Homo sapiens: one gene and its partners. The protein of the gene in region 2 interacts with the protein of the main gene of each other region in a pairwise test. Each region holds a gene or a part of one and is shown on either strand. Other genes may lie near its edges. The genes, in order: UBP1, ZNF184 and SOX6.

Region 1 (3,656 bases), on a different chromosome or scaffold from region 2:
ACTAGATGCTCAGGGTAAGGGTGAAGGGAAAGTACTGGTTAGCTTCTCCAGCCTGGTCCGGGGAACCACTGACAGGTAGGGCTCCCAGGGGTCTGACAAGCAAGTGAAAAGACTTAGGCATCAAATTATTCCAAGTAATTCTGAAATGCCAGTACACCAAAATAACCAGGCATAAAAGGACAAACAAGACTCTAGAAGCAAAAACCAACAGCAAAAACAACAGATGACATATATCCAGTTCCAGATTTTGTCTGCTGGTATTCAGATCTTTTCTGCCTCTACTGCAGAAGGTTAGAAGCCTGAAAACTACATATAGAAGAATTCTTGCTAGACAGTCTTGTCAGGCTCTCCAAAGGCAAACACTGGCGGAAAATTGAAAGAGCGGGAAAGGGAAAAGCCAGATGCAAAAACAGGCAACCACACGGAATGCAGCTGCGGAAAATTTCAGGGGATCAGCAGCCATGCCTCCAGCAACAAGCCCAAGAACAACCAGGTAACATGGCCTCCTCCTCCAACCCTTCCAGCTCCTTTGCAATCAAATACTTCACTAAATCCCTCTCTGCTTGAGACATCTCACTGATTTCTATTTTCCTGACTGGACACAGACCACCAGAGATTTCAGATGCTGGAATTATCAGATCCAAATTATAAAATCGTACTTACTCTATTTAAAGAAATAAAAGAAAAGCCTGAAAGTATCTGGAAGGAACAGGAAACTTTAAAGGACAGCAAAACTGAAAAAGAGCAAAAAGAACTTCTAGAACTGGAAAATAAAACTGTCCAAATTAAGAACTCAGGTTTAATAGCAGCTCAGACAGAAGTGAAGACTGAATTAGGAGACTGGAATGCTGGAATATAGGTAAAAAGAAGTTATTCAGAAAGCAGCACAGAGAGGAAAATGAAGAAGTTAAGAAGGGACCAAGTGAGAAGATTTTGCATTAAATTCAAGTCTCAGCAAAGAACGGAATAGGGGCAAAAACTGAAGACAGGAAGGCTGAGCAAATTCTAGAACTGGTGAAATATACCAATTCATGGATTCAAGAAGCCCAAATGACCAAACCAGAATAAATAAGAAATACACACCTAAATACACCATAGAAAAACTCACAAGCCAGTACAGCATATGAAAGTTCCGCCGGGTGCAGTGGCTCACACCTGTAATCCCAGCACTTTGGGAGACTGAGGCGGGCGGATCATTACATCAGGAGTTCAAGACCAGCCTATCCAATATGGTGAAACCCTGTCTCTACTAAAAAACTACAAAAAAATTATCTGGGCATGGTGGCACACGTCTGTAGTCCCAGCTACTCAGGAGGCTGAAGCAGGAGAATTGCTTGAATCTGGAAGGCAGAGGTTGCAGTAAGCCAAGATTGCGCCACTGCACTCCAGCCTGGGCGACAGAGTGAGACTCCGTCTCAAAGAAAAAAAAAAAAAACGAAAAAAGACAGCTCCATTTTCCCAGTAAATAACTAAGGGAATCAGTTGAAAATAGGCATGGCAAGGATGAGTTGTGAGGCTGAGGAGGTGTCATTAAGCTTTCTAGATGAGTAGGGGAGGAAATGGATGAGAATGTTATGGTATAAACTACAGAGCAGCAGGAAAGACATACTTGACAGCCAAGGTCATGAACCAACCACTATTAACAAAATCTGAATACTCTCATATCCATTAAATAAATTACATGTATAGTCAAACATTTACTCATCCAAAGAAAGTTAAAACTGGCTGGGTGCAGTGGCTCACACCTGTAATCTCAACACTTTGGGAGGCCGAGACAGGCGGACTGCTTGAGCCCAGAGACCAGCCTGGGTAACATGGTGAAACCCCGTCTCTACAAAAAATAGCAAAAAAATTAGCCAGGCATGGTGGCGCATACTCATAAACTCAGCTACTAGGGAGGCAGAGGTAGGAGAATTACCTGAGCCTAGGAAGTCGAGGCTGCAGTGAGCCATGATTGCACCACTGCACTTCAGCCTGGGTAACACAGTGTGACCCTCTTCTGGCTAAGTTCTCTGTTTTGGCAAAGTTTTTTAATTTAAAAAAATTTTTTGGTTAAAACACAATGGTTTGTAATTGTTATTCTAAATAAATTTTTTAATGTTTTCAAATTTCTTGATACTTTCACATTATGAAGTTACTACAACATATACAGCATCCTATTTATATTTAGATAAATTGAGACAAAGTAGTAACTAAACAAATACAAGCAACTGTGGTCCTACTCTACTCAAAATCACTGCTAAAAATAAGAGATCCTTTCAAGGCTAAATAGCATTCACAAGTGTGTCTCATCTTTGCATTCCCCACCCACACCAAAAAATTACATGTTTCTAAAACAGTTTTAACCACTACACATCAGAAGTGTCAAAATCATAAAAGAAGGAAAAACTAAAAATTGTTACAGGACACAAAAACTAAATGCAATACAGAATCCTGGATTGGAATCTGAAAGGACAAAAGGGAGACAACTGTGAATTCCAAATAAATTTTGTAATTTAGATAACAGTATTGCACCAAGTCTAATTTCTTGATTTTGACAATAGTACTCTGGTTGTATAAGTAGGAGAAGCTGGGTGAAGGGTACATGTGAACTCTCCATACTACTTTTGTAACTTGAAAAATTTCAAAATGAAGAGTTTTAAGTTAAAAGTTCAACTATGAATACATGAATGAGTAATAACTAGTTTTGTCATAGTTCATATCAAGGCAACAATTTCACAATGTCCAAAAAACTCAGAGTTTTTTGTTTTTTTTTTGAGACGGAGTCTCACTCTGTCGCCCAGGCTGGAATGCAGTGGCGCGATCTCAGCTCACTGCAACCTCCACCTCCCGGGATCAAACGATTCTCCTGCCTCAGCCTCCTGAGTAGCTGGGATTACAGGTACATGCCACCATGCCTGGCTGATTTTTGTATTCTTAGTAGAGACGGGGTTTCACCAGGCTGGCCAGGCTGGTCACGAACTCCTGACCTCAAGAGATCCACCCACCTCAGTCTCCCAAATTGCTGGGATTACAGGTGTGAGCCACCGCGCACCCAGCCTTTAAAAAAAAAAAAAAAAAAAAAAAAGACTACCATAGGCCGGGCACCGTGGGAGTCCGAGGCGGGCAGATCACGAAGTCAGGAGCTCGAGACCAGCCTGACCAACAAGGTGAAACCCCACCTCTACTAAAAATACAAAAATCAGCTGGGCGTGGTGGCATGCACCTGTAATCCCAGCTACTCAGGAGGCTGAGGCAGGAGAATCACTTGAACCTGGGAGGTGGAGGTTGCGGTGAGCTGAGACAGTGCCACTGCACTCCAGCCTGGGTAACAGAACAAGACTCCACATCTCAAAAAAAAAAGACTCTACCACCAAAGGCTGACAATTTCATATTCATCTATTAGATCTGTCCCAAAACAAGCAAAGTAAATAATACAGAGCCTCCTTTCAATTCAGTCATGAAGCTGGGCACCATGTGGCCCACCTGTGGGTCCAGCTACTTGGGAGTTTGTGGCAGGAGAATCCCTTGAGCCCAGGAATTAGAGCCTGTAGTGTGCAGTGATCAAGTCTGCAAATAGCCACTGCACTCCAGCCTGGGCAACAAAGCAAGACCCTGTCTCTAAAAATAATAATAATAATAGTATCAGTCATAGAACCTACAGCTAAGAAAAAAAA
Region 2 (3,656 bases):
GATGTTGAAATGGCAATTGTACATATGTCTTTGTACCTAGAAGTGTTTCTGAATAATAAATTCCTAGAAGTAGGAAGACCAGATCAAATGGTGTATCCATTAAAGTTTTGATAGATCTTGTCAGATTGCCCCCCAGATAGATTGCATTTGGGTTCTGTTTCCACCATAGGACACATGAGCACTTTAGCAGTGTTACCCAGTCTGATATTTTACTGTTTAACTATATTTTTAGGGGAGGGGAGCATCTTTTCATGGTTTCACATTTTCCTCGGTGACTTGCCTATTTGGGTTGTTGGCCTTTATTGTTGCTATTGTTGTGGGTAGTTGATCTTTTTTTTTTCCCTTAATTTTTAGTTGACATGTAATAATTGTACATATCCATGGGATACAGAGTGATATTTTGGTACGTGAATACAATGTGTAATGATAAAATCAGGATAATTAGCATATCCATCACCTTGAACATTTATCACTTCTTTGTGTTGTGAATATTCCGAATCCTCTCTTCTACTTTCTTGTAATTATACACTAAATTATTGTTAACCATATTCACGCTATAGTGCTATAGACACTGGAACTTATTCCTTCCATCTACCTGTAACTTTGTAACTGTTAGCCAGTCTTTCCCTAGCCTTCCCTCCTCTACCCTTCCCAGCCTCTAGTAAGCACAATTCTACTCTCTATGAGCTCGTTTTGTTTTTGTTTGCTCCTACATGTGAATGAGAACATGCGATATTTATCTTTCTGTGCCTGGCATATTTCACTTAACATAATGTCCTGCAGGTACATCCATGTTACCACTAATGACAAGATTTTATTCTTTTTTAAAATGGCTGAATGGTATTCCCTTGTGTATATATACCACATTTTCTTTATCCATTCGTCTGTTGATGGACATTTAGGTTGATTCTATATCTTAGCTGTTGTCAGTAAAGCCATAGCAAACATGGGGATGCATGTGTCTCTTTGGTATACTGATTTCCTTCACTTTGGATAAATACCCATTAGCGGGATTGCTGGATCATATGGTAGTTCCATATTTAGTTTTTTTGAGACAGTGCCAAACTGTTTTCCATAATGGTTGTACTAATTTACATTCCCACCAGTGTTGTATCCTTGCCAGCATTTGTTATTTTTTTTTTTGTCTTTTTGACTAACTGGGGTGAGATGATATCTTATTATGGTTTTGATTTGCATTTAGTGATATTGAGCATTTTTTCATATATTTGGGTGTTTATATGTCTTCTTTTGAGAAATGCCTATTCAGATACTTCACCCACTTTTTAATGGTATTATTTATTTTTTTGCTGTTGATTTGAGTATATTCTGGATATTAGTCCCTTGTGAGATGAATAGTTTGCAAATATTTTTGCCCCTTCTGCAGGTTGTCTTGAACTCTGTAGATTGTTTTTTTTTTTTTTTTTTTTTTTTTACTGTGCAGAAGCTTTTTAAATTGCCTTTTGTTTATGATGTCTTATAGATGTTTTACATTGTTATGTGGTTATATCTATCGATCTCTCTCTCCATCATGTAAATTTTGCCTTCCAGATTTCAAGCTTATACAAATATTTTCCTGTTTTTTATTCTATTTTATTTTGACTTTTTCTTTACGATTTCATCTTTAGGTTGGCAGGAATTTTTGTGTGTGTTGTGAAGTAAGGATCTCACCTTAATTTTTTTTTCATAGACAGTCGTTTGTTATGGCATGATTTAGTGACTAATCCATCTTAACTAATTTCACTTTTAACTTACTTTTAATTTAACTAACTTTTAACCAATTTGAAAGCTGCTTAATGCCTTTTAACTCTTATAAATATGAATCTGTTTCTGGATTTTCTATTTTATTTCATTTTGTTTTATTCCAGACTAGGCCATTTTTAAATTACTTTATCTTTTGAAATGTATTAGGGCAAGTCTTTCCACCTCTCTTTTTCAAAAAACCTTTGGGTGCTCTTGCACATTGTAGGTAGTAAAAAATATTGATGATAATAGTTAAACCATTAATACTTAGCGGACCTTGGAACACAGAGATGATGATGGTAATGATGACGATGAAGGACAACAACAATGGCCATATTGACTGAGCACTTATTATATGCCAGACGTTAAATTAAGCATTTCACATGGAATGTTTTATTTAATTCTCACAATAACCCAATGGATGAGGCACTGTTTTTACATTTATTTCATAAAGGAGAAAATGTCAAGATTATTTTGCAGACATCCTATAGACTGCCTTACTTCTGTCAGTATTGCTAACTTTACCCCTTTCCTAAGTAAATGCTTATGGCTAAGCAGAAATATGTTTGGTATTTCAGGAAGCGGTGACTTTCAAGGATGTGATAGTGGACTTTACCCAGGAAGAATGGAAACAGCTGGACCCTGGCCAGAGAGATTTGTTCAGGGATGTGACATTGGAAAATTATACACACCTGGTCTCTATAGGTAAGGATAATTTCTCTGAGTTAATATCAAGGGGTGTGCAGGAGGAGGGTTCTCTCTTGTGCTCAGGGGAGTTTGCCTTTAAGTTTAGTAACCAACCATTTCTAAATTTCTAGTTTTTGAAAAGGTTTCTACCATCCTAGCAAGCAGAGGGACAAAATAATAATTTTCCTGAACCCCGATCAGTTCCCAAATTATACTCCCACCATGTCTGGGAACTGGTAACACTAAAGCTTGATATGCTATCCACTCCCATCAGGTTTTTACTACATATCATTTCTTCTAAAGACAAAGTGGTGATTGAATTCTGATATGGTACTTTCCCCTTACTGCAGGTTTCTTTCTTTTTTTCCCTAATGAACAGGACTCCAAGTTTCTAAACCTGATGTGATTTCCCAGTTAGAGCAAGGGACAGAGCCATGGATCATGGAGCCAAGCATTCCAGTAGGTACCTGTGCAGGTAAGTCATGGATGCCAGCAGATGAATATCATTAACTCCGACTGTCAGCCTGATAAGAGAGGATTTTATGTCTGAAGTGTAGATGTACTTTCTTCCCTTTAAAGTATTTCCTGTGGAGAAATGGGAAAACATCTGTTTTCTGGACTTTCTTATGCTTTGTTATGTCACTAATTGTTGCAATATATATTCTATGTTATGCCCCTTTTTGAGGAGATGTCCTTCCTACCTTTCTATGAAATCCACCTCTCGAACTGGACTCTGAATTACATCTCTTTCTACTTCCTTTAGGACCATGATCTCATAATTATCACCGTACTTTTCAGTCCTTACAATTTTTTATTTTGGATCTACGGGCTCCATTCCCAGTACTTTTAAATAGAAATACATAACCTATATTTCCAAATAGATTTACTCCACAATATGAATCTTTATGGCCACCATTCAGTTTATCTTTTCTTTCCCAAGCAAACTCAACAAAAATGAATTCCATAACTGCAGGCTTCGTTTCTTTATCACCTAATTCTTACCTAGTAACATGTATAGCTTCTGATTTTTTTTTTCTTTTTTTGAAACAAAGTCTCATTCTGTTGCCCAGGCTGTAGTGCAGTGGCGTAATCTTGGCTCACTGCAGCTTCTGCTTCCCAGGCTTGAGTAATCCTCCCACCTCAGTCTCCCGAGTAGCTGGAACTACAGGTGCACGCCACCATGCCTGGCTAATTTTTGTATTTTTAGTGGAGACACGGTTTCGCCATGT
Region 3 (3,656 bases), on a different chromosome or scaffold from region 2:
ACCCCAAGAAAGTTATTTAATATTTTCAAGTTCAGTTTCCTAGTATTACTAGCTCATAGGTTATTATGAGGATTAAAACAGAAAAATGCATATTAAATGCCTAGTGCAGTTTAGAACCTAGAAGGCATTCAATTTAAAATGACTAGAATGAATGATTATCAATACATGTACATATATAAGTGGGATGAAACAATAAATGTGAAAGCAGTTGTCAGTAAGACAGTGCCGAATAAGCATTAACATTATTGTTACTATACTCTTTGTTTGGAAATTAAGTCTCTTAATTTGTTATACTCTTTGGAAATTAAGAGACTTAATTTCCAAACAGACACAGATTTAAAGATTAAAGGGACAAGACCTAGCATTTCTTCAGATTACCTTCCTTGTATTATTGAGTCCTGAAGTCTAAAATGCTTATTTCAATAGATAAAATAATGTATAAGAATAGCCATTAACAGCTTAAAAAACATTCTTGCCTACTTTATCTGATTTGATGTTTCACAATAATCTTATGAGTTAGATAGTATATTATTATGCTTATTGTACAAATACATACATTGTGGTTTTTACAGGTAGAATGAGTTGCCCACACTCCTGCAGCTGTTAATTAGCAGAAACAGGACTAGAATCTAGGTCCTCTCACATGTTACTCAAGTGTTCTTTTTGTAAACTCACAGTTAGAATATTTGCTAAATTGTGCTGAGTCTAAGTGAATCTTCTGATAGTGAGATGTTAATCTTCCTCAATGAATTTTGGAATATTGGATCTCTACAGGAGCATATTCTCATTTTGAGTAAGGATGTCTTTTTGGGACCTGAAAGTTTTCATGCCAAGTTAGTGATATCCATATAGAAGATAGAATTAAATCATTTCCAGCATGTGAATATGAATGCCCCTTGGCCGGATTTTTGGAAGTTGTGAGATGAGGGAAGAAAGCCAACAAGGAGATAAATTATAGAGTTGACCTTGAAATAGCCCTCCTAGAATTCACTCTGAAATTGTTTGGAAAGCATTTGTTTGCTGTCCTGAGTATCATGAGGGACAGAGATGACTGAGTCACAGGCCCTGCTTTTATGGAACTCTACTCAGCAGAGCATATTTCTTAGATCATGAGCTAGAAATGGGCTGAAGTAATAGCACCTGTGTTTGAACAGCACTCTCGTCCAGGTGATATTGGATAGAGATGTCCTTTTTACCAGAAAAGCTCCAAAATAAAAGCTGTGGGACCAAAAAGTGACTAACTTAAAAAAAAAATTCCATGTATAGCTTGGGAATTTTTTCCAAACTCAAATGCATATGCACATGCATTGTACACATCAGACATCCAGTATGAGCTTGATTCTACACTCATTTCTTCTGTCCTGCCTATGTGAGGTGTATACACACACATACACACACACACACACACACACACACACACACACGCTATGAAATGATTATACGAGCCCTCAAGCAAGTGGATCACACTAACATTTGTCACAGCAGATGAAACCTATCATCAAAAAATTGCCCTCTTTTTGTCTAAAATTGGAAAATCTTATTCAAAGTATTCATTTTACCCACAGTAAAATGCAAGATATCGTTGGAAATAAGTCAGTTTAATATTGAAGATTTTCCTTCTGTGTTGCTTGAAATACACTGGAAGTAAATATTTATTCTCACTTTTTTTTTGAAGCTTTGTAGTTATGCGAAAACCAGTCCCACACATATCGCCTCATTGTCATGAAGTGAGGGAGCTGATCACAGTGGGTGTTCGAGCTGGGGGTGGGGAATGGGTTGTCATTCTCTTGGTAAATAACTGAGGCAGCTTGATGAGAAGAATGCTTCATTAACCAGCCAGCAACTGGGGTACTGGAGAGTACGGTGAATTCCTTCCGCCCCCTCTTTCCTGCAGTGGACATATGAACACACAGATACAGATATCACTAAAGTACACATGTGGCCTCACAGATTTTTTTATTTTTTCTGCGGGCCAGAAATGACTGTGTTGTATTATCACAGCAACTATAATGGGTAGCCTGGACAAACATCTCTGCCTCCTGCCCACTCCTCAACCCCTTCCTCCCCATAATTTCCCCACAGAAGAGGCAACATTGTGCACCAGTTGTACATACAGGCAGAGCAAATACCTTCCCCCAATATGTATACAATTGGAGTCTAGGAACTGTAGTCTGTGAGGAGGTGAGTAGACAGAATCCAGGTAGGCTGGAGTGCTGGGGTTTTCTCCAAGGGCTAAAAGAACCCAGCACAGCTTGGTTGCCCTGGCTCTGTGTTCTATGTATATTAGCGTATAGTTTAAAAAATAGCAAATGTGCACCCCTTCCTTGTTCAGAGAATGCAGCTTTCTACAGGGGAGGGGATAGTAGTAGTACTTTTTAGGAGTCTGACCTCACAAGCATCTAATAATGCATCCTGTGTATGCAGATATCCTATCTAGTCTCAACTCCCCTGCCCTTTTTGGGGATCAGGATACAGTGATGAAAGCCATTCAGGAGGCGCGGAAGATGCGAGAGCAGATCCAGCGGGAGCAACAGCAGCAACAGCCACATGGTGTTGACGGGAAACTGTCCTCCATAAATAATATGGGGCTGAACAGCTGCAGGAATGAAAAGGTAAAACTGCTTCCTTGTGTCACTGGATCTGCTAGACTTATTGGCTCACTCTCATCTGGTTCTTTCCAGGCTCCCAGGTATCAACCTGCAGCCATAGATTTGGGCTTCCAGCTTGAGGGCTGTCTTGTACTTTACTGAAATCTGTCATGTAGCATCTGTAAGCATTATTGTTGATTAACAAATACGCCCTTTCCCACCCAGTGTAAGTTGCCTCCCAACCTACCTGCCTATTGGTGTTTTTCTGTCACATTCTGAAATAGATGTATCTTAAAATAAAGGAGATGTATGATGTTATTAGAATAAAAGTAGAGTACCAGAATATTAAAAAAGGAAGACACATATGTGTTTACAATGAAGACTAATATGTTACCATGACTCACCATTAAATGTAATACTAAACTTCCTGTCAACCAGGACAAAAAAATGAAGCAAAACAAAGCAATTTGCAAATTGCATTCATTTGGTTTTTGATCCAGCAAATTATTTATTGTTTATTCTATGATGGACTCTGTTCTAGGCGCTGGAGATACAGCAGTGAGCAAATCTGACAAAGACACCTGCTTTCCTAGAGCTTATATTCTAATAGGAGAACACAGACAATGAAGAAATAAACAATTAAATAGAAAATGTAATGGCAGGAAGTCAATAAATGCCGTGAGAAAAAATAGAAGCAAGTTAAAGGAATAGGGTGTTATAGGGCTGGCATGTTAGATGAAGTGGTAAGGACTCTCTGAGGAAGTGACATTGACATCTGAATGAAGCAACAGTCCAGGCCATATGAAAGGCAGGAGCAGGGGCATTCTAGGCACTAGGAATGATGAACATGCAGGCCCTTGGAGGATTAGACCAGCACCAAGGAGGCCAGTGTGGCAGGAATGGCACAAGAGACGACACAGCCGGGGATCATAAAGTAAAAGTGATAGGCTGGGCAGAGCTTATTATTACCTGGTACACCCTGGAAAGGCTTTTCATTTTATTCTGAGTGTGATGGGAATCCCTAGACTGATTTTGTCCAGGACATTGACATGATCTGATTTACATATA

The links.
Region 1: the proteins of ZNF184 (region 2) and UBP1 interact in a two-hybrid assay, tested with the Homo sapiens proteins (one large-scale study listed by BioGRID and IntAct).
Region 3: the proteins of ZNF184 (region 2) and SOX6 interact in a two-hybrid assay, tested with the Homo sapiens proteins (one large-scale study listed by BioGRID and IntAct).

Annotation. Positions count from the first base shown.
Region 1 is NC_000003.12:33,430,323-33,433,978, forward strand, and holds part of UBP1 (upstream-binding protein 1), read right to left. Parts: intron 1-3,656. UniProt on the Homo sapiens protein: Functions as a transcriptional activator in a promoter context-dependent manner. Modulates the placental expression of CYP11A1. Involved in regulation of the alpha-globin gene in erythroid cells.
Region 2 is NC_000006.12:27,456,072-27,459,727, reverse strand, and holds part of ZNF184 (zinc finger protein 184), read left to right. Parts: intron 1-2,318; coding exon 2,319-2,445; intron 2,446-2,806; coding exon 2,807-2,902; intron 2,903-3,656. UniProt on the Homo sapiens protein: May be involved in transcriptional regulation.
Region 3 is NC_000011.10:16,045,470-16,049,125, reverse strand, and holds part of SOX6 (transcription factor SOX-6), read left to right. Parts: intron 1-1,803; exon of another isoform or gene 1,804-1,888; intron 1,889-2,424; coding exon 2,425-2,612; intron 2,613-2,835; exon of another isoform or gene 2,836-2,878; intron 2,879-3,656. UniProt on the Homo sapiens protein: Transcription factor that plays a key role in several developmental processes, including neurogenesis, chondrocytes differentiation and cartilage formation.